Regions from separate parts of the Homo sapiens genome. Here all the other regions are linked to region 1. Evidence: fine-mapped expression QTL. A gene starts in region 1. Each other region holds a variant in brackets. All regions are shown on one strand. Distances are between the middles of the regions.

Region 1 (11,263 bases):
ACTGACTTAGTAGTGTTCTTTGCTAAAACTGGATTTTACAAGGAAGTACAATGATGGTGCTAGGAAGTTTCAGAAGACTAACTAAAGTTTGGTCAAGCAAAGAATTGTTGTTAGCAGTAATTTGAAATTGGTTTTATTACAATAGCTTGCCCTTGATTTATTTTTAGTTGTGTCCTAATCTCTTTCAGAAATATGGTCCATCTTAATTTGCATGAGTGACTTAATCTATATGAGCCTCAGAGAGGTACTTCTACAATAATTCATGTTTTATTATAAATTGCTTTTGAGTGGACACAAGGCGTTTCAGGAGGTAGTATTGCGCTAATTATCAATCCTTTAAAAATAATTAGAGGCTAAGTAACAAGAATTAAATCTAACTTCCTTTTGGGCCCCTTTATTAGTCAAGATGGATGTTTTCCACTTTAAGAGAGAAGCAAATGGCTTGATGGGCTGGCATATCAATGTAAACCTCTCTCTGACATCAGTACTTCTATACTTTTCCTACCACACAGAGCAGTATTGAATCAGGAGGTGATGAGGCTGCAAAGAAACTAATTATTATTATTATTATTATTATTATTATTATTATTTTTAGAGATAGAGTCTCACACGGTCCCCAGGCTGGAGTGCAGTGGCGTGATCTTGGCTCACTGCAACCTCCACCTCCCAGGTTCAAGCCATTCTCCTGCCTTGGCCTCCCAAGTAGCTGGGACTACAGGCGCGTGCCACCACGCCTAGGTTATTTTTGTATTTTTAGTAGAGACAGGGTTTCACCATGTTGACCAGGATGGTCTCGATCTCCTGACCTGATCTGCCCACCTAGGCCTCCCAAAGTGCTGGGATTACAGGGGTGGGCCACCATGCCAGGCCCGAAGGAACTAATTTTTAAAAATATTCACTGATCAGTTGTCCTTGAGAAGACTTGAAGCATTTCACTATTTTAAGTCAATCTCAAATTTGTCATCTGAGCAAAATAGAATAAAGATGCCACTGAACCTAGAGGAAAGATTAGGTAACCAGGAATCCTACTTTCAGGTTTCCTTTATCTCTTCTTTTTATGATCTCTTTGGAGTCTCAGTCCCAAGTCCTGCACTACTCTCCATGGTCATGGAGCACTCTGATACTGTTTCCATCTAAAAAAGAAAACAACTCCGAGAAGAAGGGGGTAGCCAGAGCTCTTCCTTGGAAAAGGATGACTTAAGGATAATTTGAGGAAGGAAAAAAGACTTTCTTTCTATAAAAATCTACTATTAGAGGCCACTCTTTTCTTTTCTTTTTTGAGGCAGGGTCTCACTCTGTAGCCCAGGCCAGTCTTGAACTCCTGGCCTCAAGCAACGCTCCTGCCTTGGCCTCCCAAAGTGCTGGGATTGCGGGTGTGAGCCATTGCACCTGGCCTAGAGTCACTCTTTTGGGTTAAGACGTTCTCTCTAGAAAGCCTCCGTTAATTATAGGTAAGGATTGATACATTGACCTATTACCTCAACTATGATTTCAGCAAAGATAATTTCACTATCCCAATCAGCTGTTAACTTAGAAAGCTAGACTTTTATGGTGTTAACCACACACACATACAGACGCACACACACGAGCAGCTTTGGGTCTTCCAATCCTATACTTAGCACATTGTAGCACAAAGAATCTCCTTAATATATTTTTATTAAGTTAATAGGTGAATAGGAAAGGCTGTAGTGTGTTATACGGGGAAATAGACTCAGGTGTGTCTAGATATTAAAGTCGGTATATTAAGGTTACCAAGCGTGAAAGATTTTGATGGAAGAATGAAAACATCCATGTCCAGGACTTCCAGTTTCATTTCTCAGTCACTAATTTCAAGTCACCAAATAAACAAAGTGAAAATGGGTGAAACGTACTTTGAGTTACAATAAGTTTATCTTAATTCATTGACTTTTCAACTGCTCAGATGTCTTAAAATTTTTTAAAAAGTAAGTTGTTATAGTAAAGAGCCACACAAATACTCATAGCAGAGGAACAATTTCTGGATTATGTCGGTGAGCTTTTTAAGGGTTTGGGGAGGATGAGAATAAAAGGGTGACTTTTTATTTTCAGTTTTTCTATCTGGATGTGTCAAATTCCTGATAACTTCTAACACTCAGCAATGGAAATTTAGAAGGTGCCTGAAAGAACAAATAGAATTTTCAGACCTGGAGAAATTCTAGTAATCATCACTCTGGGACATATTATTAAAATTAGTATTTTAAAAAAGAAAACAATCTTTCAGAAAGACAGGAAGTTTAGGAGCCAAAGCCAGAGGCCCTAATACAAATCGCCCCCACCTCCCCATCCCCCCATCCCCACCTTCTTCCCCGCCCTGTTCAAACACGCCCACAGCCCAGGAAATAATGAGACCCAAGTGATCCAGCTAGATAGAAAAAGTAGTTTGCTTGGCATCTCCCAAATTATCTTGAGCAAACAATAAAATAAGAAATGTTTCAGAAGACAATTCGGCTCCCAGGCCCAAACCAAAACTCGAACCTGGTACTTTTTGTAAGTGCGGGCCAAGAAAGGGGCTGTAAAGTTAAAGAGCCGGTGGCGCCTCTGAACACACCCGGGCAGGGCGAGCAGGATGTCCTTGTCCAGGGAGACCCCTTCTCCTGGCTTTGAGGAAGGTGCTCCCTATCCCCGCGGGTTCCTCCGCCAAGCGGGACGCCGCGCCGGGCGGGTGAGAGAAAGCCCGGGCAGGAGAGCACAGAGCCGGCGACTGGACGCGAGCGCGGGGCGGGTGGAGAGCGTCTCTCCGGGCGCCGCTGCTGTTGTCCCGGGTGCTGAAAAGCCGGGAACTTCCCGGGAAGCAGCGGCACTTTTCTCCCTGGAAGGTGGGTGTGGGGGTTCCAGACTGCGCACCTGCTAAACCCTCCTGGGTCCCCCGGGAGGGGTCCGCCAGATGTGCCCCTTCCCAGCCCCATTCGGGGGAGAAGGATGGGGGCGGGGGCGTGGGGGTGAGCACAGCCGGACACCGCAAGTGGGAACCTGGGGTGTCCTTCCCCGCAGCTCCCGGGCAGCCGCGCGCCGCGAACCCCGGTCCACCTGCAAGCAAGGCGGGCCGGGGGCAGAGGGCGCCGGGCTGTGCGGGGGAACCGGCCCGCGTCCCGGGATTGGGGGGCGGTGGAAGAGAGAGCGAGCGGGCATGCGCAGTGGGGCGGAGGAGGTGGCGATGGCCGGGGGAGGCGGGGGGACTGCTGTTTATTTGCAGCTGGGCCAACTCCGCGGCGCAGGCGGCGGCGGAGCGCGGGGAGCTCGCGGCGGGTCCAGCTGCCGCAGCACCATGCCCGAGCCCCCCTCCGGGCAGACGCCGCGCGCCGCCGGGGCCCCGGTAGGGGAGGATGCCAGACGCCCGGGAGAGGCCAGGGCAGCAGCGGCGGCGGCGGCGCGATGGTGGTGACCACCTCTGCCCGAGGCGGCGGCGGGGACCGCACACCCTCCCGGCGGCGGGGCTGCGGGCTAGCGCCGGCCGGGGCCGCGGCGCTGCTGGCCGGGGCAAGCTGCCTGTGCTACGGCCGCTCCCTGCAGGGCGAGTTCGTGCACGACGACGTGTGGGCGATCGTGAACAACCCCGACGTGCGGCCCGGCGCCCCGCTCCGCTGGGGCATCTTCACCAACGACTTCTGGGGCAAGGGCATGGCCGAGAACACCAGCCACAAGTCCTACCGGCCGCTCTGCGTCCTCACCTTCAAGTGAGTCCCTCACCTCGCGCTAGCCGCCGCTGCCTCCTCTACCCTCCGCCCGTCCCTCGGACCGGGAGAAGTTGCGGGACTGACTTGGGGGCATTTCATTTTTGCCGCCCTTTCCCTCCACGCCTCCCTCCTCTCCAGGATGTGCATGGCACTTTGCTCCGGGATCCACTGCCCGGCTAATCTGGGCTCTCGGGGCGGTTCGGGAGGCGCCGGCTGGGGAGTTGGGATCGAGTTTCTCAACTGTCTGCCCTCTCAGCGGGCTTCTCTCTCGAGGCAGGGCTGGGAGCGGGCTGGTGAAACCGCCTCCGCACCCCTTCGCCTGCCGGATCGTGACCAAGTGGGACTAGCGCGGACCCAGAGGGTTCCGGAGGGGTGGCGGTGGTGGCGATGCTTCCAAGTAGAGAATTTCTCGGAGGCTGTTGGGCAGCTTTGCAGATGAGAAGTGTATCAGCCCCTTAAGGGTTTCGTTCAGATGAGACGAGGCGGGAGCCTTGAGCTGACAGGGCTGCGTGGGTTCAGGAGAGGGAGCAGAAAACTCTCCCGAGCCCCCCAGCCCCCGCCTTGCACCCTTGGCTGCTCCCAGAGGCTCTCCAATCTGCCAGACTTCTCTGGATCTAGACTTTAGAAGGTGCAGAGAGAGGTAACGCAGAGCCTAGGCTTCTCCAGGGACCCTGGGGCCCCAGCCGAAATAGTTTTTCTTTTACAACCTCGGAGTCATGATTCAGCGTTTCTGGTGTGAATAAGCGTAAAGGGAACCGAGAATATGCCAGGTTTTTGAGGGGTGGAGTATTTTCTTTAATTTGAAAAGAAGCCTAGCTTCTGAGGAAAGAAGAGAAGTGCTCATTTAAGGGAAATGCTATCTTACACAATCAGGAGCTTGACTCAACCCTTTATAATGTGGCTCAGCATTGAAGTTCATTTTAACGCGCCGGTCAAAACTGTTGAAATAATATTGGTGCGCTATTATCGGCGTTTTAAGCCTTTTTGCAACGGGTGTAATAGGAACCCGTGTTTATGGTAATGATTATTTGAGACTGGGTTGGCAGCTTGAAAAGCCTGCTCTGGATGAGAGGCTGAGGCCTCTTGACAGGTGTCTCTGATGACTCAGAAAAGGAAACCATAGCAATCGGCAACAATTCATGGGCTTTTGACTTACGTCTTCCACTGAAAGTTTAATGTTTTTAAGGAGAGTGAGAAAATTACATATTTGACTTTGAAGAGAATGTGTTATAGACATTTGTTCTCTTAGAAAGTTGTTCTCGTTTTCTACTGAAAGATAACCTTGGCTAACCTCGCTATTCAGTTTCCCAGATGTTTCTTAAAATCTCCTTGGGACAAATATAAATGTTTCACTTCTAGATTGACCTGCTTTTTCATTATTACAGTCAGGGTTGTTGGTTAATTTAGGATGTGCAAGTTCACAGCATGAGATGTGCTTGCTATCTTTGTAACAGCCATGGAGACCATCCTGGTCACAGGTCTGAGTATTTTTCAATTAAAAAGGGCAGAGTCAAATGCCTGTGCCTACTTGCTGGAGAGTAGGGAAGGGTGTTTTCACTTCTTGACTTTCTAGAAGGTTTTCTTCTTTTTTCTCTGTCTTTTCTCTTTTTTTCTTTTTTGGGATGGGATCTCACTCTGTCCTCCAGCCTGGAGTGCAGTGGCATGATTATTGCTCACTGTAGCCTGAAACTTCTGGGCATAAGCAATTCTCCTGCCTCAGCCTCCCAAGTAGCTGGAACTACTACTGGCACATGCCGTGCATCCAGATATATTTTAAAATTTTTTTTGTAGATATGGGGTCTTCCTATGTTGTCTAGGCTGGTGTTGAACTCCTGGGCTAAGCGATCTTTAAGCCTCAGCCTCCCAGTGTGCTGGACTTGTGGGCATGAGCTACTGTACCTCACCTAAAATGTTTTATTTTTCTTCATAATGGAGACAGCAGGCACATAAGGGAGGGGTGGAGGGAGTAGACAAAGAAGTAAGACCATTGATTAAGAGGAAAATTGGCTAGGAGTTGACAGAACAAGGGCAAAGGAGAGTTGGGGGATTCAGGAGGAAGAGAGCTGAGGGACTCTTGTGGTAATCATTGATTGTAACAAGCAGCTTGGTGTCTAAGAGGCATGGCTTGCTGTATATTATATGCTACTGCCTATGAAAGATACACTCTTTTTTTGAGAAGATTGAGTTGCAAATCTAGAAGAGAAACACAGCACTAATTGGAAAGAGATAACTGCCTCTTCAGAAAGAGAATGTTAAGTAGTCTTTCTGTCCTCACATGCATTGATTTAAATAAGACTGGACAGTTTTCTTTATATTCACCTGAGGTATAGCATGAAGCTGGAGGATATCAGTGATTTTAGAACCATACAACTCTACAGGATGGTACAAGGAAGGACAGAAAGCCGTATTTATTAACTATTCGCTATGAACCAAGCATTGGCCTAGATACTTCACATAGATTACGTCTTTATGATTTTTATTTTAGATAGTGAAAACACAATTGAAGGGGCCCTTTAAATATGTGCAAACCATTTTAACTGTATCTTAAATTATGCTTGTTTGAGCAAAAACTTTGAGATTTCAAACCCGTTTTAAAAACTTTTTTAATGTAATTGTGCATTCCCATGCAGTTTTAAGTAATAATAGAGAGATTCCTTCTACTCTATCCATTTCCCCCAATGGTAACATCCTGTATTATTATGGTATAATATTACAACCAGGAAATTGATATTGATGCAATCTACAGCATTTAGTCAGATTTCACCCATTTTATATGTACTTCTATTTTTTTTATTTTACTAAGTGTGTATTTAGTTTTATGCAGCTTTATCATATGTGTAGATTTCAGAGAGTACCTCCACAGTCAAGATACGGAACAATTCCATCCCAAGGATCCTCAGTACTTCTTTATTGCAATCATGGACACCTAATCTATAACAACTGCCTAATCCATAATCCCCTCACCCAAATCCATAACAACCATGAATCTGTTCTCCATTATCATTTTGCCATTTTAATACTGTTGTATAAATGGAATCACATAGTATGTAACCTGTTGAGATTGGCTTCTTGCACTCAGCATGTCTCTGGATCTTCATTCAGGCTGTTGCATGTATCCATAGTTTGTTCCTTTTTATTGCTGAGTTGTATTCCATTGTATGGATATACCACAGTTTGTATAACCATTCACCTGTTGGGGACATCTAGGTTGTTTCCAACTTTTGGCTGGGATAAAGCTGCTATAAAAATTCACTTACAGGTTTTTATGTAAACATAGATTTTTATTTCTCTGTTCTAAATGCCCAGGAGTCCAATTGCTGGGCCATATGGTGGCTGCATGTTCATATGCTTTATATGAAGCTGCCATACTGTTTTCCAGATGTTCCTAGCCGCAGTGTCTGAGTAATCCAGTTTCTGTGCATTTCTGCCAGCACTTTGTATTGTTGCTGTTTTTTACTGTAGCCATTTTGATAGGTATGTAGTGATATCACACCTATATATGTACCTCATTAATTTACCATTCCCTAATGGGTGAAGCTATTGAACATCTGATATTAAACCAAAGAGTTTGGTAAATGTGCCTTTGTGTCTTTTGTCCATTTTTAAGTGTTTTTTTTAAATGTTGAGTATTGAAGTTCTTTATATATTCTAGATACATGTACTTTGTCAAGTATGTGATTGGTAAATATTTTCTCCCACTCTGTAGCTTGTCTTTTTGTCCTCCTCACAGGACCTTTCTCAGTGCAATACTCCAAACATATTTTTTATTAAAATGTAAGTTGATTTTTGATTCATTGAATGTATCTTACGCATACTGAGAGCTAGAAATTTCCTTAAGAATAAATGTAATTTATAGATGCATAATACTTTTTGCTATAAAGGTGGTTGCTTGTATACTAATAAATAATAAAAGTGCTTGCTTAGGTAGTAAAGATACTAATTATGTATTTTTTCAAGTAAGAAATGAACTAAAATTTGAAATGAGGAAATGGGTTGCAGACCATCTACTTCTACCAGTTTTGAGGGGATGGGACAGTGGAATATGAAAGCAGCTTACCAAGATGTGGTGGCTTTGCACTATGTCACTTTAGCTAAGTTGGGACTATGTTTCTTGGAATTGCCTTTGCAAGATGATCTGGGTTAGGGCTGACCATAAGAAAAATTTCTGCAAGATTTGGAAGGTGAAAGTGAAGTGGCTAAGATCACATTCAGAATGTTGGCATAGGTTTTGTTGCTGCCAGGCCTCTTGCAGTTTGTCACAGAAATGTTGGTGAACATGCTGTTGGTTTGCAGCAGCACCCAGGCCCTCAGCTCCTCCAGTGCTCTCCAGATCTCGTCTTTCAGCTACTTGGAATCATGGTGCAGGTGTGTATGCAGCTCTGCAGGGAAGAGTGCCAGTCTTTTTGCAAGCCTCTTGCATTGTTAAAGTTGGAGCCTTAAAGGCAGTGGAAAACAGACATGTATTTTAGCTCATCCTTGTGGGTTCCATTTTGCCTTTGCTTCCCCCTACTTCAAGTCCATTCACCCTCTCTTCCAGAATGGCCCTGCTGCCCTGCTGGCTTTCAACTTGGATAATAGACACAGAAGCATCACACTTACATAGGCTATTTAACCAGCCCCAGCAATAGTAAAAGGTCAGATCCCCATAGTACATCCCTTCTTCTGAATCACTCATGGTGGCTCTGGTTTTCTAGTCTAACCCTAACTGATACAAATGACCATCTCTTTGTGTTCCTTGAAGTGAATTTAGAATTACAATGAATTTCTGTTTCCAGTCAAATCTCAGATTCAGTCTTTTCATAAGATCATGCCCAAGGGCATGCAAGAATATTTTTGGACCATAGTGGTACAGAATCAAAACATCTGTGACTCTGCAGCAATAACATTTTTTTTTTGCTTCTTTTTCCTTCCCTGGCCATGACCTGTTTGTAAGCCTGAAATCAAGAGAAATGCATTAAGCTACTCTGTAGAGGGTGAATTGACACAGAACCAAACTCTATGATGTCCATAACCCCTCCCTTGAAAAATGGTCCAGAATGGTTTAAAATAAACTTAGCTTTTTAATTTTATCCCAACCCTTCTCTTGGGAAGAAGATACTGCTGAATTGTTCGCAGTGCCATTCCATTCAGTAAGCAGGTGGAAGTCTGCTTCAACAAGCAAGAACCAATGATTTTTTAATGTTAAAGATGGGGAAACTAAGCAAATGAAAGGACTTTAAAATCCTGATTCTTTCTCTGTGTGTTTAGCCTATTAGATTATATTTGCTATAATGCTTTATTTTATTAAGAGCTTCTGATGGTAATATAAACCATAAGAGTGAAAGTGGGTGGTTTAAAATGTCAGAGCCAAAAAATAGACTATCTTAATATGTGCAGCTGTAGGAATTTACAGCATTTTAATGTTTGATCTTGAAGGTTTTTTGCAGTAGTTTGCATCTTTTAGTTACAAATAGTATGCCAACCATGAAAATAAGCACTAGCTAACCTCCATGCCCACAACCTTAAAGAAACGGTGATATGTTTCTTTTGTTTCTATTCCTTTTCATTCAACTTCTGTGGGATTTCATTTTGACACAGCCTGTTGCCACAAGGCTGATAAGTTTGTTTTCTAAGTCTATCATAGGACACAAGTGAAGATTCTCTAGGATGTTTGACTAGATTGTCTAGGATGTTCAGTGACAGAAATAACCAAGGGAAAATGTGATTGGAGGCAAGAAAAATTTTATAAAGAAAAATGAAAAACTGCCTTTGAAAATTTTATGCCACCCTAAGGTTATCTTGGAAGCTCCAAGAGGTGGAGGTTGTGATTATAATCTAGTAGGATATACTTTATAGACTACAGTCTGGTAGTGTAGGAGGGACAGAAAGTGAGAGGAATATATTTTTGGACTCATGAGGGTTTTTATAGGTGAGTCCCTGAATCAAGGCTTGGAAATCACCTTCCGAAGCAGTCTATTATTACCAACCAATGTCTTTTCTGTCTTTCTTTGGAGCTACATTCATATTTTTCCTAACTTTGAGTATGTCATCATCTCACTTAAAGAGAGGGGTAAGGAGGTCGGGCACGGTGGCTCATGCCCTGTAATTCCAGCACTTTGGGAGACTGAGGCGGGCGGATCACTAAGTCAAGAGATCAAACCCATCCTGGCCAACATGGTGAAACCCCATCTCTACTAAAAATACAAAAATTAGCTGGGCATGGTGGTGTGCACCTGTAGTCCCAGCTGCTCGGGAGGCTGAGGCAGGAGAATTGCTCGAACCTGGGAGGCAGAGGTTTCAGTGAGCCGAGATTGCACCACCGCACTCCAGCCTGGCAACAGAGCGAGACTCTGTTAAAAAAAATAAAAAGAGAGAGAGGGGGGTAAGGAATGCCTGATCATGCCCACACAATGGCAGTGTTTCTTTCCCAAATAATAAGATACTGTTTCTTTTCTATGAAGTCCTGTTTGATCTGACCCCTGGCTACCTCTCTGATCCCTAGTCTACCAATCTCCACCTCATTCTCTGCACCAGCATTCCAGAGCCCTTGTTCTTTGCACAGGCCAAACCCACTGCTACCAAAGGCCTTGCATGTATTGGTGGTTCCTCCTGAATGCTTTTCCCCAGATCTGTGCAGGGCTTATGTGCTCACCACCTTTGGTTTCTGCCTAAATGTCACTTCATCCCGGAGGCCTTCCCTGGTGGCCAGGTGATCAAAGTAGCAAACACTCCTCTGTGTTTTTTTACCCTTATTTCCTTACCCTGCTTTGTTGAGTTTTACCTCCCCTCACTACAGTGTAAACTCCATGAGGTTTATCTCTAGCACCTACAACTAAGCCTGGCTTGCAAAGTAGGGACTCAAGATTTATCATTGAAAGAAGGAATATTATTTGTCAATTAAAAATGAATTAATTTTTTAAAGAATGAATAAATCCTTTTTGTGACTGCTCAGATTTTTCAGGTAAATACTAAGGTAAGGCTACATGATTATAATGTAGAGAAAAAGTCTGCTTGGTTTACTTTTTCACTAATTTACCTTTGTTCTTTCTTTCTCAAAGAGAAAAGTGGAGGCAGACTAGGAATTTCCTCAGATGTATACAGAGGATACCAATGGGTTCTGTTTACTGAGAGATTCTGAAAGGGATGACTTTGAATTTCTATTGGAACTTGCTGGAACTGTAACTCTGTGTAGAGAATGAAGATCTGTAGCGCTTTTGGATCTTACTCTTCTTAGGTGGCAGGTTGCAGCACAAATGGTTGGTGGATGCTTGCTGCAAAGTTCAAGGTGAGAAACAGCAGCTGTACCTTCAAAACCCAGAATTATAGGGGGTTCTCACTACACTCCAATCTCAGGTTCCTAAGATTCATCCATGCCTATGCTTTCTATAAGGAATGGCCTTGTTGGATCAAATGGAGTACAAGTACCTGAAAATATGTTATCAGAGAAACTAACATGACAGTGATTTTTTTCTGGTCTTCGTGCTGGATTCTTGGGAGGAAACTTCTGATCCCTTGGAATTTCCCAAGTGAGAGGAGTTTCTTTATTATTCATGATGGACTCCTGGGATCACACCTAAGTTTATGCTAAGGAG
Region 2 (11,276 bases), 120 kb after region 1:
TAATTTTATTTTGTATTTTTAGTAGAGATGGGGTTTCACCATGCTGGTCAGGCTGGTCTCACACCCCTGACCTCGTGATCCGCCCACCTCAGCCTCCCAAAGTGCTGGGATTACAGGCGTAAGCCACTGCGCCTGGCTGACTTTTTGATAATTTCTTAAATGGATCAGGTATATCTTGGTATCCTGAATTCCTATCCTTTTTTTTCTTTTTTTTTGAGACAGAGTCTCGTGCTGTGGCCCAGGCTGGAATGCAGTGGCACGATCTCAGCTAGCTCACTGAAACCTCCACCTTCTGGGCTCAAGCAATCCTCCCACCTCAGTTTCCTGAGTAGCTGGGACTACAGGCATGTGCCACCATGCCAGGCTAATTTTTTTGTATTTTTAATACAGATGAGGTTTTGCAGTGTTACTCAGGCTGGTCTGGAACTCCTAAGCTCAAGCAGTCTGCCTGTCTCAGCCTCCCACAGTGCTGGGATCACAGGCATGAGCCACCACACTGACCCTGAATTCATGTCCTTTCAAATGTATGTCACTGATGTGTACAAACATCTGTGAGAATAGTATTTGAATTTCAAGCATCCTCCTGGGACGGTAAAGACAGAGATTTTGTTGGAAATGCCGTGAGAGGTAGCAGAGCTTTTGTGATTAAGGGCACAGACTGAATTTATGACACCCCTGTCTTACTACCTGTGGAACCTTGGGACAAGTTATTTGACCATTAATGCCTCAGTTTCCCCACTTGCAACATTAAGATATTAATAGTGCCCGTCTGACAGGAATGTGCTAAGGATTACAGGCATTAGAACCATGCCTGGGGCACAGTAGGTATTCATTAAATGGTATTTGCTGCTGTCATTAACAGGAAATGTATTTCACTAGTTTACCCAGACAGTCCCAGTATCAAATACTCTTTTTCACTAGCTTAATTATACTTGAATTTATCCATCCATGTATCCCAGTAAAAGGATCAGAAAATATCATTATAGTACTATTGACTGTTTTAATCTTTTTCTTAGTGCAAACGTCTACTTGTGCACTTACACAAATGTGTATTGCAAGTAGCAGTGATTTTATTGCATGGATTATTTAGTCTTTGGTTTGCAACAAACTTGGATGGATGGAAATAACGGAAAACACAGCAAATGTGTGGTCAGAGAGGAGACCAGTGATGCAGCAAAAAGGCATTGAATTGGCCATCAGGAGACTCAATCCTGGTGCTAGACCCACTGCTCCCTAGGTCTAAATCTGTACAATGGGGCCAGTTCTCTCTGTTCTGCCCACTTCATGAATATATCTCAAAGATTAAATGTTAGAATGAATCGAAAAGCTCTTTGACACATAAATGCCATACAAATACATACTATGTATCCTCTTCTAAAGGGAGTTTATTTGGCAAATTAAATATTCTTCTTAGTAGCAAGTTTTTATATATACCAAATTGATGACCAACTAACAAAAGATTATAGTAGAAACATACTTAACACCTAAATCATACTGCTAAGTAAACGTAACACATGCTTTTCTCACTTATTCTTATGATAAGGTCTCTCTATCTACTTGAACGAGAACCTCTTATTTGTTTCTACATCTGGTATCTCGGAAATTTCCAAAATAGCTGTCTACTTCCTGGTGTTCACCATGTCCCCCTTGAGGCTGCTGGACCTCTTGTTCTTTGTTATGGACTTCAGAGTGGGCACTCTACCAATGTCATGCAATGCTAACACTGCACTATTGGAAATCAGATGGGGTTATCTCTCTGTGTTAAGCCCTTCACTGACTGTCCATTGCCATCAGAATAAAGTCTAAACTCCACAATGGGCCATGAAGTCCCGGAGTGAAAGGGCCCCTGCCTACCACTTTAGTCTCTCTGTTCACCACTGTACCAGTATTAGATCTTCCAGCCATATGGACTTCTTTCACTTTCTCCCTCTGAGCTTGCCCTCTCAATCTTAGGCCTCTGTATATATATCATATTCTATCTCTTTGCACCTAATTCACTTCTCATCTTCCTCAGGTGTCAGCTACATTTGTCACTTGGAGCATCCTCATCTGTCCCACTCCCTGTTTCTGCTGGTTGCTTCTCTCTGTGGGACAGGCTGGTTGGCCATCTCACCACACAGTGACGCCCTCCCAGCTCTGCTCATTCTCCTTCTTACCATTTTTTCTCACTTAGAATTTCTGAGTCCACGGTACATGGATGGCACTTGTGTTTCAACCTGCAGCAATCACTACATGCGTTAACTTTTAAAAGCGTGCTTATTAAAAGGACTTTCAAAAATTGTGCACTGTTAACTTCATTCATTTGTATGAAAAGCCTTCATTGTAGAACTGTATGAACTGAAGAAGATATTGAAATGATCTTTATCACTTTTAATTAATTAGAAGCTGGGGCCAGGAGCAGTGGCTCATGCCTGTAATCCCAGCACTTTGGGAGGCCAAGGTGGGTGGATCACCTGAGGTCAGGAGTTCAAGACCAGCCTGGCCAACATGGCAAAACCCTGTCTCTACTAAAAGTACAAAAATTAGCCAGGCATGGTGGCATGTGCCTGTAATCCCAGCTACTAGAGGGGCTGAGGCAGGAGGATCACTTGAACCTGGGAGTTGGAGGTTGCAGTGAGCTGAGATCGTGCCACTGCACTCCAGCCTGGGTGACAGAGTGGGACTCCATCTCAAAAAAAAAAAAAAAAAAAAAAAAGATAAGTTGGTATGGTTTGAATGTGGAATCCCTTCCAAAATTTGCATTGAAACTTAATCCCCATTGTGGTAGTATTAAGAGTGAGGCCTTCTGGGAGGTGCATTAGTCAACGCCCTTGTAAAAGAGGCTTCAGAGAGAGTTTATGTCTCTTGCTTTTCTGCTCTTCTGCCATGCGAGGATGCAGCAAGAAGGCCTTCACCAGGCCTCCCAGATGCTGGTGCCTTGATCTTGCACTCTCCAGCCTCCAGGACTAGAAGAAATAAATTTCTGTTCTTTGTAAGTTACTCAGTCTGTGGTATTTTATTACAGCACCATGAACAGACTAAGACAGAAGTCATTGTGTTGTTAACATGCAGAAATGCAGTTTAACAATGATCTGTGTTGGAAACATGCTGAATAAACCAGCTCTATTTTACTTCTGTGCTGTACAGAGTAGTGAATGCTTGATTTGGATTTAGATTTGGGTCTCACCTTTGCCTCTTGCCAGCCATGAGATCCCTGAGTAAGTACCTCCTCCGCCTCATTTGCAAGACAGGGACAAGTATGGACTCACAGGGCTAGTATGAAATAAAAATGGTAAGGTGCTTAGCACAGTGATTAGTGCCTATTAAATGGATTCAGTACCTGCCATCACTAATGAATTGAAACTTCCCTGGGACTGTTAATGAGAGACAAGGGTGATGTCTGAAATTTTTGCTATTAGTTGTAGAAGGAATAAAAAACTAGGGCCTCCAACTAAATTAATCATAGAGGGAATAAAAATAAGGTCCTCTAAGTAAATTGATGAAGCTTAAACTCATTGACCTTTGACACTGAAACATCATGACCTTTTTGCAGGCCAAGTAACATTTCTGGGCATCATTTTTTTCCCTCATTATAAAACTACATGAGCTGTTTTGATTCCTTTCACCTCTAACTTTAATTTGCAGAATGGTTAAGAGAACTGAAATTATTTTCTCCTATGGCTTCTTTGTCGTCATTTTCACCGTTTAATATATGATAATTGAAGTAACTGTTTCCTTGGAAGTAACTTGAATTCAGAGTTTAAAATTTCTGGAAGGAAAATTTATCATAGCCTTAGAATGGGGTATTGAAGGTCAGTCTGAGTTTCTGAGTAGATAGAACTGAAATATGCATCATTGTTTTCTTAGAATAGTGAGCTCCTTTCCTTCAGAATCTTTATTTGAATATCAAAGGAGACATCAAAGGTTGTTCGACTCCTCCATGGAATGCCTTTGCCTATTAAGGTTTAGACGAGGCACTTCATGGGTTCAAGGAAAGTACATTAAAGAGAGAACCCATAAACACTTAAGTTTCCTTTATTGTTAAGTGTCAAAAGACACTTAAAATTCTTTTGTTGTTTTTGTTAAGCTTTTGCTTTTTTTCTGATGTGAGCTGTGTCTTTGCTATATTCTGATCAACTGAGAAATCTTTTTTCTTGAGTTTCAAAGAGAAGCAGTAAATCTGCATTTCTGTTGAAAAAGCTCTGATTCCAAAACATTTTTTTGATCTGAATATGTGACTCTTTACTAATTTCCTTTTTGCGTTGAAAGAGCAAAGGAAGTTAAGTCAATTAAGATTGATGTTCTAGAAGAAATTTCATATATCACTGTTTATGATTTGTTGCTATAATGTTAAACAGTTACAATTCATTGTATCTGAGATGTTTGCTACCTGGAGCTGACATTTAGGCAAAAATTATCAGGTGTTTATAGATTCTGAGAACAGCTGGAAAGACTAATTTCATATCTTCATTGAAATCATTAGTATTCCGGGTAAGGGAAATGGCACTATTACCATTTCCAGTGGAAAGTGGTTTTTCTCTTCCAACTTGCTGCCACATTCCAAACTGTGAGCACTTTTATTTTGTACCCTGATCTACCACGAGAGGGTAAGGAAAACACAGAAAAAGAAAAGGGGTAGGCCGGGTGTGGTGGCTCACACCTGTAATCCCAGCACTTTGGGAGGCAGAGGCGGGTGGATCACGAGGTCAGGAGATCGAGACCATCCTGGCTAACACAGTGAAACCCCGTCTCTACTAAAAATACAACAACAACAACAAAAAAAAAATTAGCCAGGCATGGTGGTAGTCCCAGCTACTCAGGAGGCTGAGGCAGGAAAATGGCATGAACCCAGGAAGCGGAGCTTGCAGTGAGCCGAGATTGTGCCACTGCACTCCAGCCTGGGTGACAGAGCGAGACTCCGTCTCCAAAAAAAAAAAAAAAAGAAAAAAGAAAAAAAGAAAGAAAAGAAAAGGGGTAGATGTTTACAATTTGATTTGGCTCAGTAAGCATTTATTGATCATCTTGCTATATGTGTTAAAAATATTCAAATAACACTTGTTAAAGCACTGTAAGGAAAACCTTAAGGTGAGGATGGGTCTGTTGCAATTGATACGGAGACCACTGTGATGGAATTTTGCAGTAGTGGAGAGAGTTGGGGCTTAACTCTGAATATAGCATGGACAAGTGGGAATTTATAGCCAGTGAGCAGGGTGTGGTGGGTTGGGGGGGCATCAGTGGATGGAAAATTACTAAGAGAAAACATCATGAATAAGGGAGAATTCTGGCTAAATAGACCTAACAGGATTATTCCTAAAGATAGGCCAGGGTGATGAGACATCTCCTGGGAGACGGTGGAGGATGAAAAACTTGATTAGATATTGACAGTGATCAGCTCTGATGGTGGGGGTTTCTGGCTAAACTGATTTAGCGGGATTCTCGCTAAGACTGGATTTTACAAGAAAGTACACAGATGGGCCTAGGAGAAGGTTCAGGAACCTGACTAGGTTTTGGTCAAACAAAGAAACTTTGTCATATGATCAATTATTTATTGACGTGATAATTCTGTGTTAACAAAGGTCATTGATTTATAATAAGCATTTATTTAGTTCTCAAGATTATGGGTGGGTAGATGATTATGGTTGGCTGGTTGTTCTGATCTCTGCTAATATCTCTCAATAGGATTTGAGGACCAAGTAACTATGGATGGTAAACTTGACCTTTATTTGAACATGATATACTGGGATGGTGGATGTGAGTAGTCAGAAAATTTGGGTATGTGGGAGCGTAGATTAGGGAATTTACTATGGCTAACCTTAGTCTTTTGCTTTTATTTGGCAAGAATCAGAAGTTGTTA[C/T]AAATACTGTTTTACAATGCCAATAACCTTGATGCCAATACCCTCGATTAATGTTCAACTGTTTTTTCATATGCAACTTCAAATTTTGAAGGGCCTCCTCCAGGTGAAGGGTCAACTAATATTTGACTTTTCACGAATCCCTTGACATTCCTTTCTCTTTTTTTTTGAAATTGGGTAGTTTCTTCGTTTTTCCTTCGTCAGTTTTGGTGTCATCAGTTGGTGAGAACATCCAAGGATCACAATATTTTAGACCTAAAACTGACCCTGAGACCATTTGGTCTAACATTCATTAATAAAGGAAGGAAGTAAAGCTCAGGTAGATTTATTTTACATCATGTGACAAGTTAGATGGGATCAGAGGAATAGAACCCTGGACCCTTAGTTCTCATTCTGTTGGTTTCATCAGTGGTCTGGTTTTGTTGTTGACATGTTCTCTGGCTTTGCAAGGAAAAGAATGGAGAACTTGACTGGAATTAGAAAAAAATAGTAATAGCATTTACATAGTAAATTGTATTTGAAGACAATTTTAGGTACTTTATCTTATAGTTGCAATGAATAGCTGAGAGAATCTGATGTCATAGTTAAGTATTATTTCCAGTTTTATGTTCTCCTCCTTTAGAAGAAAGAAATTATAATGTTCTTCCTCATGGAATTGTTGTAAGTGGTGAATAAGTTACTACACTCAAATCACTTAGATTAGTGTCTGGGACATATTAGTTGTTGCTATTTTTATTATTGCTGTTAATAGTATTGTTATTGAGTGTTGTTATTTGGTTCTACTTCACAGATCGTGTGTATTGGACTGATGGGGAAAGTTTGTTTATTTTTGGTGTGGGTAGGGGAAGAGGAAAAGATGCAGAGAATTTAGCCCTTAGAGTGCTCCTGTCTGAGCTTAGGGATCTCAGCCTCTGACCTAGTGTTTACCAAAAAAGAGGGCCATGTTATTTTGGGTTACTTTCTCATTTACTATTGGTCAACAACTAGAAATAGAAATCTTGAAGAGGTCATCTTTTTTTTTCGTCCACTGCTCTCTTTACCAATTTAGGCTTTCATTACATTGGGATGCTACATTTTATTTTATTTTATTTTTTTTATTTTTTTATTTTTTTATTTTTTATTTTTATTTTTTTGAGACGGAGTCTCGCTCTGTCGCCCAGGCTGGAGTGCAGTGGCGGGATCTCGGCTCACTGCAAGCTCCGCCTCCCGGGTTCACGCCATTCTCCTTCCTCAGCCTCCCAAGTAGCTGGGACTACAGGCGCCCGCCACTACGCCCGGCTAATTTTTTGTATTTTTAGTAGAGACGGGGTTTCACCGTTTTAGCCGGGATGGTCTCGATCTCCTGACCTCGTGATCCGCCGCTACATTTTAACAATAAATTATTTGGTGCCTTTAGCTTCTTGAGAAATGGACTTTCTCAGGAAACCAGGGGACACTTTACAAATATGACTCAGTGAAATAGCCATCATAGCAAGCTTTCAGAGAAACAAAATATGGAGAATTGGCTGGGTGTGGTGGCTCACGCCTGTAATCCCAGCACTTTGAGAGGCCGAGGTGGGTGGATCACCTGAGGTCAGGAGTTTGAGACCAGCCTGGCCAACATGGCGAAACCCTGTCTCTACTAAAAGTACAAATATTAGCCAGGCATGGTGGCGGGCTCCTGTAATCCTAGCTACTCATGAGGATGAGGCAGGAGAATAGCTTGAACCCGGGAGGCAGAAGTTGCAGTGAGCTGAGATCACGCCACTACACTCTAGCCTGGGCGACAAGAGTAAGACTCTGTTTCAGAAAAAAGAAAAGGAAAATTTACCTAAAAATATCCTAAACTTTGTGGTTTGTTGTTCTATAGAAAGGAAAACCACTGCTAATTTTTCCACTATGTTAAAATAAACAGGCAACAGAGGGAACTTGAGGAAGGACGTTTCCAGAAGCAGATCACCCCAGAAAGTGCCTTTTTATTCAGATGTATTACTTCTCCAGCCCTCCCCAGCACCTTTTCCATTTCCACTGTGTCATTCTCTTTGCCTTTCTGCTGCCATTGATACATCCTGAAAAGGAACAGCAGAAATAACCAGAGTGGTCGTGGTTGAGTTGGCCTGAAAATAATAGTCACAATAGAGGCAGAGCTGAGAGAAGGACGCTGAGCAGGGCTTTACCTTTTAGGCAACGAAGAACCCAGTTGACACTAAAGATCGAAGTCAAGGACTTTGCCTCAGAAAAATACACACAAAATCTTGTGTAAATTTCAGGAAGCAGCGGACCCCCTAAAGCCCATTTTGGGACAGTAGCTATCCCCGTGGGTTGTGAGAGCTGACAGTATCCCTGGTGTTCTTTCTTGTCAAGCTCTCTGTTGGCAGCTAAGGAAGATGAAAGGGATTTAAATGCAGTGCTTGAGGATGGATCCAGTCCAGAGCTTGCTAAAAGCCAACTCTCTTTTGTGTTTTTTGGACTCCTCGTTTTCTCCACTCATTAAATACTTGAACGGCCAGATCTGAGCATGTATCACTTCCACAGCTCTTTATGGACCAGGCAGAGGAAAAGAGAGGTGAGAAGGAAGCGTGAGGCTCTCACCTCCTCACAGTACCATTTGTTACAAAGCAGAGGAGCCACATGTGTTTTGTAAGCAATCCTCTTTTTTTTTTTTTTTTTTTTTGAGACGGAGTCTCGCTCTGTCACCCAAGCTGGACTGTCACCCAAGCTGGAGTGTAGTGGCACGATCTCGGCTCACTGCAACCTCCGCCTCCCGGGTTCAAATGATTCTTCTGTCTCAGCCTTCCGAGTAGCTGGGACTACAGGTGTCTGCCACCACGCCTGGCTAATTTTTGTATTTTTAATAGAGATGGGGTTTCACCATATTGACCAGGCTGGTCTCGAACTCCTGACCTCGTGATCCGCCTGCCTCCGCCTCCCAAAGTGCTGGGATTACAGGCGTGAGCCACCTCACCTGGCCATTGTAAGCAATCCTCAAGGTGGATAGACATTTCTTTGTGAGATATTAACCCACTCTGGTTTTTACAAAAGGATTTCTTACCTTATAGAACATTACCTTTGTGTAAAGAGACCTCATGCAGATTTTAATGCAAATTTTGTTGGGGAAAACCCCTTTGAGGAAAAATTGGATTTAAAAAGGAGAAAAAAACAATGAAAAGGGATAGAGGAAATAAGGATGAGGTGGGAAGTGCTTGCGGTTTATGCTATTTGATTTGACTTTTGTTTTCCCCCTCCATTCTGTATTTTCCGTGTAGAATTTTGCATGTAGGTGAAAATGACTTATGACTTATTTTATGTTTTCATTTGGGGCTTCTTAATACCGTCTCTTGATTCCCTTTCATCATCTTTTTCTAAAACCAGCCAACCACTTGTCTTATATGTAGATATCCAGAACTCCCAATTCCTATAAGTGAGTAAGCTACAGCAGGGCAGGATCCACACAGGTTCCTGCCCCTCTAGAAGCTGACGTTCTTGTAACCTAGTTTGGTTCCAAGAACCACAGGGAGGTGAGAAAATTATTCACTGGATACCAGTGAGCTCTAATCCTAACACAGATACTCATAACTTTGTTGCCTTAAAAAAATTATTTAACTGAGTGGGTGCAGTGGCTCACGCCTGTAATCTCAGCACTTTGGGAGGCTGAGGTGGGTGGATCACCTGAGGTCAGGAGTTCAAGACCAGCCTGGCCAACATGGCAAAACGCCATCTGTACTAAAAATACAAAAATACTAAAAATACAAAAATACTAAAAATACAAAAAGTACCTGTAGTCCCAACTACTCGGGAGGCTGAGGCATGAGAATCGCTTGAACCTGGGAGGTGGAGGTTGCAGTGAGCTGAGATCGCACCACTGCACTCCAGCCTGGGCGACGAGCAAAACTCCGTCTCAAAAAAAAAAAAAAAAAAAAATTACTTAACCTCCTACAACCTTGGCATCTTCTATTTTTAGAGGTAAGAGATCTGTGAGGTATTTTGTGGATGGAAGACATTGGAGCCTTCAAATTATATTAAGTAGGTAAATAAACTCTTATTTTGTTTAAGATTATCCCTGTGACCAGTGTAACTGTATTGTTTTCAAAATGACTGGGTTATTTGGGATTCGATGGGATAGTAATATTTATAGCTAACAGAGCTGAGTCCTGTTCTAGATATTATCTCATTTGTTCCTCCCAACTTTCCTGTGAGGTAGATACTATTATTGTCTCCCTTTTATAAGTGAGTAAAATAGATGTGCAAAGAGGTTCGGAAACTTGCCCGAGGTCTCCTGGGCTCTCAGCAGCAGCAGAACTGGGAACGGAAACCCAGGTGTTCTGGCTCCAGAGGCCCTGCTCTCAGCATTGTTCTCTGCAGCCTTCTTCAGAGCTGCAGCGTCTTCACCTTGAAAGGAGAACATTGTGTCTGGTAGACACACTTATCTAAGATTTTTTTTCTTTCCCGTTTTAGGTATCTGAGAGCAAGCAGCAATAGAAATTTCCTGCTTACCATGAGACCATTTTTAAAAAGGGCCATTTTGGTCCTAAGTTATGTAAGTATATATATATATATATATATACTTTTGAAATATCTGATAAGGAATGTTTCCACTCTATCTCAGCTCAGACATGTAATTCAAATTATTTAATAGAATCAGCAATAGACTCTAACATCATGACATTGGGATCAAACAGTTGGCATGCCGTAATGTTACAAAGCGTCCAAAGGTATATATGAAAGCATTCCAGGGATATGTGGATTTAATGATGTGGACAATGTGAACTGCAGTATTCTATGAGTCCCTTTCAAGATGCTGAGGCTGAGTTGTCTCAAGAGGAGGCAGTGCAATCCTGGCTGTATCAGTTGTCTATTGCTGCATAACAAACCACCCCCAGCTTTAGTGGCTTAAATATAACAACCCTGTATTTGCCCTACCTGCTTTAGTTTGGGCAGCATTCAGCTTTTCGGTTCTTCTGATCATCATGATTTGGGGCTGAGGTTACTCAATGAAGTTTATTCAGCTATCGTCTGAGCCAGTTCATCTCAGTTCTCCTCTACGTGATATCTCATCCCCGAGGGCCTCTCCCTGTTAGTTCTTTTTCCAGAGGGGTAGTCAAGACTTCCTTGCCACATGGCAGCTGGTTTCTAAAAGAATGAACTAAAAGTTGCTGCACCTCCCAAAGATTAGGTCCAGAACAGAGGTAAGGTACCTTCTGCATGTTCTGTTGGTCAGTACAAGCCAGCCACAAGACTAACTCAGATTTAAGGGAAGGGGTGACTGACTTCATTCCCTGTTAGAGGAACAGAATGCACCTGCAAAAAGGGTGGAGATTATTGGTGGCAATCTCACTGAATCTTCTTATTTTCTGAAGGTGCTTGTCATTTTGTACTTCCGTCTGTGGATAATGGGAGGATCTATGCCCCTCTTTTCAGAGCAGGATAATCCAGCTTCATTTTCGCCTTACATTCTTACGAGGTTAGT
Region 3 (9,410 bases), 100 kb after region 1:
ACTGCTGTGGCAAGAGAGACCATGATTTAGTGTTTATTTATGTTACACACAATTGACTGCGGGTCCCTTGCGTATACACACGTAGACACACAAAAGCATATTTTGCGTTGAGGCTTATGTAGAATTTGATGAGTATAATTTAGTTCAGATGCTTCAAGATTTTCTTTAAATTACTTCTTTCTGGATTGGAATAATAATGTTTATCCTAACTTCTTTCTTTTTAAATCTTCTTTCTTCTACTTTTTGGGATTCTGTTTCTAGATGCTTTTTTGGGAAGAGTGATGTAAATGAATTTGACTTTGCTTTTTAAAAGTCAGAGTTTCTACTGATTTCAGTTTTAAACCCTCTTGACCTCGTGATTGAATCCTAAACCTGGTATTGTACATTAAAGGAATGAAGCCAGGAGTTCTGGTAATTCATTTGCCGACAAGGGTAACCATCTCCAGCTGCAGATGTTGAATCTATGTTTTAATATCTGTTCATGCTTTGAGTTTACTGTTCTTTAGTAATGAGGTGGCATGGCACAAGGGAAAAGACACAGGCTTTAGAACTAGGTTAGCTTAACTTTTTAAGAAAATTTGTTTATTTTATAACACAGATGCACAGGAAAATCTAGAAATAGTAGAGAGAGATTCTCTATCCCCTTTGTTCAGTTGCTTCCAATGGTTACATTGTACATAGCTATAGTACAATATCATAACCAGGAAATTGACATCCATGCAATATGTGTGTATAGTTCTATGCCATTTTATCATATCTGTGGATTCATGTAAGCACCACCACACTCAAGATATATAGCTACTCTGTCAACCCAAAGATCTCCCTCATGCTGTCTCTTTGTAGTTACACCCACTCTCTACCCCACAACCAACTCTAAGTCCTAGCAACCACTAATCAGTTTTCCATCTCTGTACTTGTGTCACTTTGAGAATGTGATGTAAATGGAATCATACATTATGTGGTCTCTTACAGTTGGCTTTTTTTCACCATAATGTCTTTTAGATTCATCCAAGTTGTTGACTGCATCAATAATTCTTTCCTTTGTATTGCTATGAAGTGTTACATAATACAGATGTACTATAGTTTGTTTAACCATTCACAGACTGTGGTACATTTTGGTTTTTTTTAGTAAATTTTTTTTCTTTCAGTTTTGCGCTATTACAACTAAAGCTGCCATGAGCATTCATGTACAGGTTTTTGTGTGGGCATTTTTTATTTATCTGGGATAAGTGCCCAGGAGTGCAACTGATGGGCTTTATGGTAACTGTATGTTGAGCTTTTTAAGACGCTGCCAAACTATATTCCAGAGTGACTCACGGTAATATAGGAGAGATCCTGTTTCTCTGGACTTCCCCAGTATTTGATATTGCTCTATTTTTCATTTTAGCTGTTCTAGTAGGTGGTTAGTGATACCAGTATTATCTCATTGTGGTTTTATTTTCATTTCCCTAATGGCTAGTGACATTGGCCATCTATTGGCTATTTGTATATATTCTGTAGTGAAACACCACTTCATGTCTTTTATCCATTTTCTAGTTGGATCACCTTTTTTGTTGTTGTTGAGTTTTGGGAGTTCTTAATTTATTATAGATACTAATTCTCTATCAAATAAGTATCCTTAAAAAACACTGTTTTTAGTTAAAATTTCAAACATATACACAATTTTTAAAATAAGTGTAATAAACCCCTCATCTTTCACCTTCAACAATTACTGTCATATGTAAAGGAATTAACACTAAATCCTAATATCATTAAATGGGCAATTACTCATTACATTTCCCTTCATTTCATGTTTTCACTTGTGTATTCTGAACCATATACAAATAATTTCTATACATTGCAATTGGTTGATATGCCTCTAAAGTCTCTATTAATCTGTAGATTCCACCTTCCCATCTCACTCTTTCTCCTCTTTTGCTTTTGCCTTTATTTTTGTGGGGGTGGGAGGGGGAGGGGCCTTGTAACACTTCCCACAATCTGCATTTTGCTGACTGTGCCCTATGATGTCAGTTGATGTGTGCCTCTGTCCACTGAATTTCCTGTAAGTTCACAGCTAGATCTAGAGGCTTGAGTGCATTCAAGGTTTCTCTTTTTGGTTAGAATACTTCATAGATGGTGCTGTGTACTTCTAGGAGGAAGTAAATAATTCTGGTTGTTTTTCTTTTTGTGAAGTGAGTTGCCATATACCTAGGTCCGTTATTTCAGTATTGGTTGAAAAACTGAAATTCTAATTCTAGTATTCTCTCTTAATTTACTAGCCAGAATATCTATCAAGAGAGACATTCCTTCATGAGACATTTGATTACCCTGAGAGGAAGGTACAGTTTATATAGGCAACACAGGACAAATGCTTGATTCTTTCATTTTCTTTACCTGTTTTTATTCTTACTAATGTTCAAATATTCCACCTTGGTCCACAGGAACTACTCTAAGTTACTTTATATGACTTCAGTTGTCATGCTTTATATTCCAGATATTTCATGTTCATCTTGTTTCTTTTTTTTTTTTTTTTTTTGGAGACAGGGTCTTACTCTGTTGCCCAGGCTGGTGTGCGGTGGTGCAATCTGGGCTCACTGCAACCTCTGCCTCCCAGGTTCAAGTGATTCTTCTGCCTCAGCCTCCCAAGTAGCTGGGATTACAGGCATGTGCCACCATGCCCGGCTAATTTTTGTATTTTTTGGTAGAGATGGGGTTTCACCATGTTGGCCAGGCTGGTCTCGAACTCCTGGCCTCAAGTGATCCACCCACCTCGGCCTCCCAAAGTGCTGGGATCAGTTAGACCTTCATTGCTTATTTAGTTTACTTCTCATCTGGCAGTTTCAGGGGTTGCCCCTACTTAAGAGTCTCATGTCCCACAAGGCACCATATCTCTTGTAACAACTCCACAGGCTTCCAGTGTTCACATAAGAGACATACCCAATTACAAGAATTAACACATTCAGGGAAGCCCAAATTACACCACTCTCATCAGGTATTTATGGGACATTTATAATTCCTCCTTGTTTAGTTGCAGTTTATCAATCAGGGATAATATTACCATAGGCAATATTGACTGTAACGTAGTTGGCATTCTATCTTCATCTGATTTCTAGTGGAACAGAGAGAAAATTAACTAAAAGTCACATTCTTATGTATAAAAGGAAAGGGCTTTATTAATTCTTTTCTAACTCTCCCTCTGAGCCACCACACCCAGCCTCATCTTATTTATTTTCTACCTCCGACCTGGAAACAGCCATTTGTTCAAGAGCTTTTGGTTCTTTTTCTTTGGAAATAATTTTAGGACCCAAATCAGGGCATTGTGGTGCTCATTCCTACTGGATAGCTCACTGTTTCTAGGCTTTTTCAGTGGAGACTTCTGTCAAAATCAATTATCTTTTAAAATATGAAAATAGATAACGAGCTCAGTCTGATGTTTTCTATTCAAATTCAGAGCTATAGGGATTTTGCTTAATCTCATTGATGGTACATTTCTGTCTCCCTTGCTGCCACTGAAAACTCTGGTTCCTAACGACACCAGCGTAATTACTTATTTGCTTTATTCCACATTACTCCCAGAAGTCTCAAAATAACAATGCCATCATTACCAGAAACAAAGTGATTATTAAAAATAGTGTGTGGGGTTTTTAATAATTCTTTTTGTTTTTAAGTTATATAGTACTAGGTA[T/C]ATATGGTCAAATTATTGAGATTTAAACCTACTTTATATAGTTTATGATTATGGATCATTTGTTTCATGTTTTTTTCTTTTATTTCATAATAATGTAAACACTGCTTCTAAATCTACAAAACAGGGTACAGTAAAGAGGTCTCTCTAGTCCTGAGGTCTCTCTAGTCCTCTCTATCCTGTTTCATCCCTCTACTTATAGGTTACCCTTTCTTCTTTTTCTCCTTCTTTTCCTCTTTCTTTTTTTATTCTTCTCTTCTTCAGTTTGGTTTAGCTTTAATTTAATGTATATAGCCTCCTACTTAGATAAATGATAGCATGTTGTACACATTTTTCCTTTATCTGCGATCACTCCATAGCAGTATATTAGCATCATCACTATGAATGTTGGTTATAGAGGAATGCTATTAGAATAGCCCATTCCATAAAGGTTTCTGAGCTGGCCTAACATATTTTTGTCTGGTCCTTGATCTTTAGTTCTTATATCTGATTTTAGAGATTCTGTCTTTCCTTATTTTTAATTTGTAAGAAATTTTACAAAATAATAGCGTTTACTGACTTTTGTTCTGACTATAGAAGTATTTCATGTTAATTACTAAAAATTCAGAACTACAGAAAATTATAAAATAAAGATTAAAATACATGAATCATATCAATACCCAGGGGAAACCTCTATTATTGTTTTGCTGCATAGCTCACTAATCTGTTGTTGTACATATATACATTTTAGCAACTGGATGAATATTGAATGTGTTGCTTTGTCATGTATTCTTTTATTTTTTGTTAGTAATATATAATGAGTGTTCCTGCATGTCTTTATTCTTCTAAAGATAATTTTAAAATCATTGAATGATATTGCACTGCATGGTTGTATGAAAATTTATTTAGCTATTCACCTATATTAGATATTTAGGTTGTATCCAGGTTTTTTATTAATAAATATTATGGACATAACTCTTTCTGTGCATTTCGGATTTGAGTGTGATTGCTAATGGTTGGAGAAATGTTTTAGGTTTTGATGTATGTTGCCAAATTGTTATTCAGACAAAATTCTACAGTTGTACAAATTTTTACTCCCATGGGAAGTCCATGATTTTTTTTTCCATTTCATGGTAGCCATATTCACATTGTGTTCTGTTATAGTTTTTTTAATGTAGTGTTTGTAAATACTGAGACACTAATGTTGCTTACCTAAGTTCTTTAGAGCATCTCACATTTGTTTCCAAAAGATGAATTTATAGATTTCTCCTTGCTTTTTGATGCTACTTCTCATTACTATTGGCATCTCCACTAGTTAAGATAACCATAGCCATGAACAGTGGCTCACACACAGTAGAAGCTTATTTCTTGTTCACATCAAGTCTGAAACAAATGTCCCTGATTAGTGGCACCTCATCTCTACACTATGATTCGGAAACCCACTGTCCCTCAATCTTGTGGCTCTGCATCTTCAAACAATGGCTGGAGGTCACCATGCTTGTCTTCATCAAGTAGGAAGAGAATGTTTGGGTGTTTAAATGTTATGGGAAGATTTTAGGGGCCAGACCTGGAATTGTTGCCTGTCACGTCCACTTACCTTCCTTTGGCTAGAATTCAGTCACATGGCCATCTCTAACTGTAAGCAAAGCAGAGAAGTTGTGTGCTCAGGAAGAAGAAGTAATATCTGGAGAACTATAAGCCAATCTCAGCCACCGTATAGCAGCACTTCTCTATGGTTTTATTTTGTTTTAGAAATGAAAGTCAGAAAATTGTGAGTTTGAAATATTAGTTTTGATTGCTCAGAAGTGACTTTTGTTCATCTCTGATTCTTGTATGTATCACCAACAGATGAAGTTGTTCAGTAAATGAGTTTCAGAATGTTGCAGAAATATTAGTTTATTAAATTTCTAAAATAAATTACTTCCCTGTTATCTGTGGGGGATACGTATCAAGAACTCCAGTGAATGCCGGAAACCATGGATAGTACCAAATCCTAGACATACTATTGCTACGTTTTTTCCTATATATACATACCTGTGATGAAGTTTAATTTATAAATTAGGTACAGTAAGAGATTAACAACAATAACATAATAAAATAGAGCAATTATAGCCATATGGCAGCATCGCTGCTTTTGCATGTGTGGGGCATTATTAAGTAAAATAAGGGTTCCTTGAGTACAAGCACTGTGATGCTGCGGCAGTCGATCTGATAACTGAGCTGGCTGCTACATCACTAATGGGTGAACAGAGTGGATATGCCGGACACAGGGAGGATTCACTTCCCAAGTGGGACCAAGTGGGATAATGTGAGATTTCATTATGCTACTCGGAACAACTTAAAAGGCATGTGATTTAAAACTTATGAATTTTTTCTTTCTGGAATTTTCCATTTCCTATTTTTGGACGGCAATTGACTGCAGGTAACTGAAACTGCAGATAAAGGGGGCTACCGCGGTATAACGATGGAATAGTTGTCTTTTGTAAATGAAGAAATTAAATCATTTAGTTGTCTGAGAATGGCTCATACAGTAGGATTAATTCATTTATCTTGTTTGGGTTGCTTGTGCTTCTATGCATATTTTATGGCACATATTTTATGTATGGAAATAACTGCAGGATGTGCTTATTAGTGAGTAGGCCCATTGGTCCTGTTAAGATGTGGTAAGAACAAAAACAAATAAACAACAACAAAAAAATCACAAGGTACTAAACAGACATGCAGATAAAGGGTTATTCATGCTGCAAATCTGATTTTATTTTTATTTGTAATAACCTTGATCCTGAAACCCATTACATTGACTAGATAAAGAAGAGAAACAGCAAAATTAGAGGCCAGTGAATTTATTTATGCTGTTTTCTTGAAGGTGGAACTGAAAATCCTAATGGCTTAAAATGATAAATGCTTTTAGGCAGAGGGATATCTGTGTGCCTGTCAGTACTTTCATTTCCACAGAAGGACCAGACTTGGACCTTGTCTGCATCTCCTCTGGAGGGCCTGATGTGAATTGTATTATTTTGGCCCTCAAATCATATTATAGGAGGACAGGATGTTTTTCTTCTTCACACACTGTGGCATGCCAGCCAGCTCTGTCAAGACTTAATGACTCCCCAACTGCCCACACTGATATGGCCTGGCTTCAGGGTTCATTCCAGCATGCCCACAAAATGCTTCATTTGGCTGCACGAGGGCATCATCTTCTATCAGTTTCTCATAGAGTGCTAGTTAGAAAATTGGTGATCAATCATGATTTTTAATCCCCTGCCTAGTGGAATTAGCACCATTTGCCGTGTCCTCACGTCTTGAAGAGAGACTGTGCCCAGTGCATCGCTCCTGGAGGTGACCTTTCGTTTGAAGGCAGAGTGTAGATGGGATCCCTGGAAATCGATCTCTGACTGACTATGGCAGGAATGCAGGCATCAGGTTTCCTACTTGAGCAAAGGATGTATCAAAATATATGCTCTGGAGTTTGATTCTCTCCTGATTAACATCTATTGCTTTTGTCAGTCTGAAGTATTCGCTTAACTTTTACAGTTTGGTTCTTTTGTCAGAGTAAGAGACCACTGAGTGCTGATAATAGTGATAGGACCCAGAAAATTGGAGTCTTCATATTTAAGGAGAGTGGGAATCATTTTGGATAATCTTATAGTCAATAAAGCTTGCATATACAAGGAAAAGGTAGTAAAAGAAAGTTACATAAAATAGGAAAACTCACAAACTTTTAAATTAAGTCCTAACCAATATTTAAAAATTAAAATGGATATCTGACACACGTAGCAGTGTATGAACAGATAAATGTTTCAAAATTACAAGTGTGAGGTTTTGGAATTTTAGTTTTGTTGAATGTTTAGGTTATTTGCAGCTAAGATTATTTAGGCACTATTGTGTCCATCCTTTATAGATATGGTGTGCTTTAAAATGAAAACCATCAAATTCCTTTTAATTAATGGCGTAAGCTTGATTCAATTTCGTTTTTGAAATATCAGCTTCTGTTAGAATCAACCAGGCAGCTTTATCATCCACTAAACAAAGTCATTATAATTCCATTGATTGCACACAGAGGGGGACTCTGTACAGTCTTAATGGTTATTAAACCCTTGTCTCTTCCTTCCCTCCTTTCCATTTTGTTACTTTCATGGAACAATGCTATTAAGAATACCTTATATTGGCTCATCCAAGTTAGATGAAAAGATTTGTCTGACAGCTGGAAAGCGTGGGTGAGAAAATTCTAGTTCTCATGTTTTCAGAATTAACAAGTTGAACCAATTAGTAGATATCTTCCACCAGAGAAACACTCGTTTTTGATTAAACTCTTATTCACAAGAAACAGAAAGTCATGGAGGGTGTGTGTGTGTGTGTGTGTGTGTGTGTGTGTGTGTGTGTGTATTTGCATGTGTGTCCAGGGCACAGAGAAACCACTTTTTTCTTTGACTTTTGCAGAACTACTCCTTAGCAGTTTATTCTACTGTACTGTACCAGCTTACTAGAGGATGGCACACAGGGTGACCAGGTTTTTCCAGGATTGTCCCAGTTTTAGTACTGAAGGTCCTGTGTCCCACGAAGCTCCTTAGTGCCAGGCAAACTGAATGGGTTGGTCACACTGGATGAAAATCCAGCTTCATGTATGAAAATCTCTATGATCTGGAAACTTTAGACTGGAAAACTTTCAGTGGACGTTCAGTTGGACTTGAGTTAAGTTTAGGACAGGAAAATTGTGTTTGTTAAAATAACAGTCTCAAATTGGGCCCTGATGTTTGTGGGGTTTGTAAATGTGGTGTTAAGACTTGTATGGTTAGGATTTTTTTAAACACAGTTTGATGAATTAAATGACTACTGTACAAAGTACCATGCTGAATCTGCAAGGGAAACTTAGCTGAATTAAGACAGAAACCAATGTTATTCTTCATTTTAACATTAAGTTACTTTGCACATGGTCCGGTGACTGGAAATATAGCAACACTGCTGTAATATGTCAGTGAGAAAATGAAATTGGCTGCAAAGAAAATGGAAACATTAGATTAAACAAGCCCCTGTGAAAATCATTAGGACAATGAAGCTGTCTAGTGGGTATTAAGTAATAATCATAGTAGTAGATCAGGGCTGCTGCTGGCCCATTGGGGATCTTTATGCAAAATAGAAAACACTGTGGGCATGAGGCATGGTGGGTGCGTGATGTTTGAGGTGTGGGCACTTCTTGCTCTTTTGAGTAAATTAGGAAAAGGCCCCCCCTTCTTTACGGCAGGTAAAGCCAGTGCCTGGGCACCACAGGTCGTTGAACAGAGCATGGGCTGGATTTGAGCCCTCACAGGCCACCTCCCTCCCTCCTCCTGAGCTGGCTGCCTTGTGCATGGACAACCTTTACAGCTGAACTAAAGGAGTCCCGTCAGCAAGAAGAGTGTTGAATGCTGAATTATAGCTTTGTCTTCTAGGAAAATATTTCGTTCTTTTTTTCTTTTCCTTCCAGGAAGGAGGGAGCTGACAGAACTTGAGAGAGATTAAATCTTTTCCTCTACTAATCCTAGCTGCATTCCTTTACTCATTTGTTTCTGATTGTTTTTTTCTGGTCTTGAAGGATAGGCCATAGGGTTTTAGTATTTTCAGCTGATTTCTGGTTACTATTCTAATAATGCTACTTTGAGCACCTTTATGTGCTGGGCACTGTGGTGAGACACTTGCATATATCATCTCATAGAAATATTTTTGATGACTTTGTAAGGTGGAAATTATCTTGACCTAGGGAGGCTAAAAGGCCTGCGTAGTCTCCTAGCTT

Evidence for each region. PIP is the estimated chance that this variant, and not a neighbour inherited with it, causes the effect.
Region 2: its variant is fine-mapped to the expression of TMTC1 in liver (GTEx, PIP above 0.99).
Region 3: its variant is fine-mapped to the expression of TMTC1 in whole blood (INTERVAL, PIP 0.99).

What each region holds. Positions count from the first base shown.
Region 1 is chr12:29,775,879-29,787,141 of GRCh38, reverse strand. It overlaps TMTC1 (transmembrane O-mannosyltransferase targeting cadherins 1), which reads left to right and starts at 3,200. Exons shown (of 18, transcript NM_001193451.2): 1 at 3,200-3,692. The coding sequence starts at 3,391.
Region 2 is chr12:29,659,874-29,671,149 of GRCh38, reverse strand. All of the region lies in intron 5 of TMTC1 (transmembrane O-mannosyltransferase targeting cadherins 1), which reads left to right. Among named protein-coding and RNA genes, the nearest start is that of TMTC1, 120 kb to the left of the region's middle. RefSeq lists an enhancer at 7,938-8,439. The variant C/T (reference allele first, on the strand shown) is at 5,834.
Region 3 is chr12:29,674,205-29,683,614 of GRCh38, reverse strand. The region is part of intron 5 of TMTC1 (transmembrane O-mannosyltransferase targeting cadherins 1); the gene reads left to right. Among named protein-coding and RNA genes, the nearest start is that of TMTC1, 110 kb to the left of the region's middle. The variant T/C (reference allele first, on the strand shown) is at 3,665.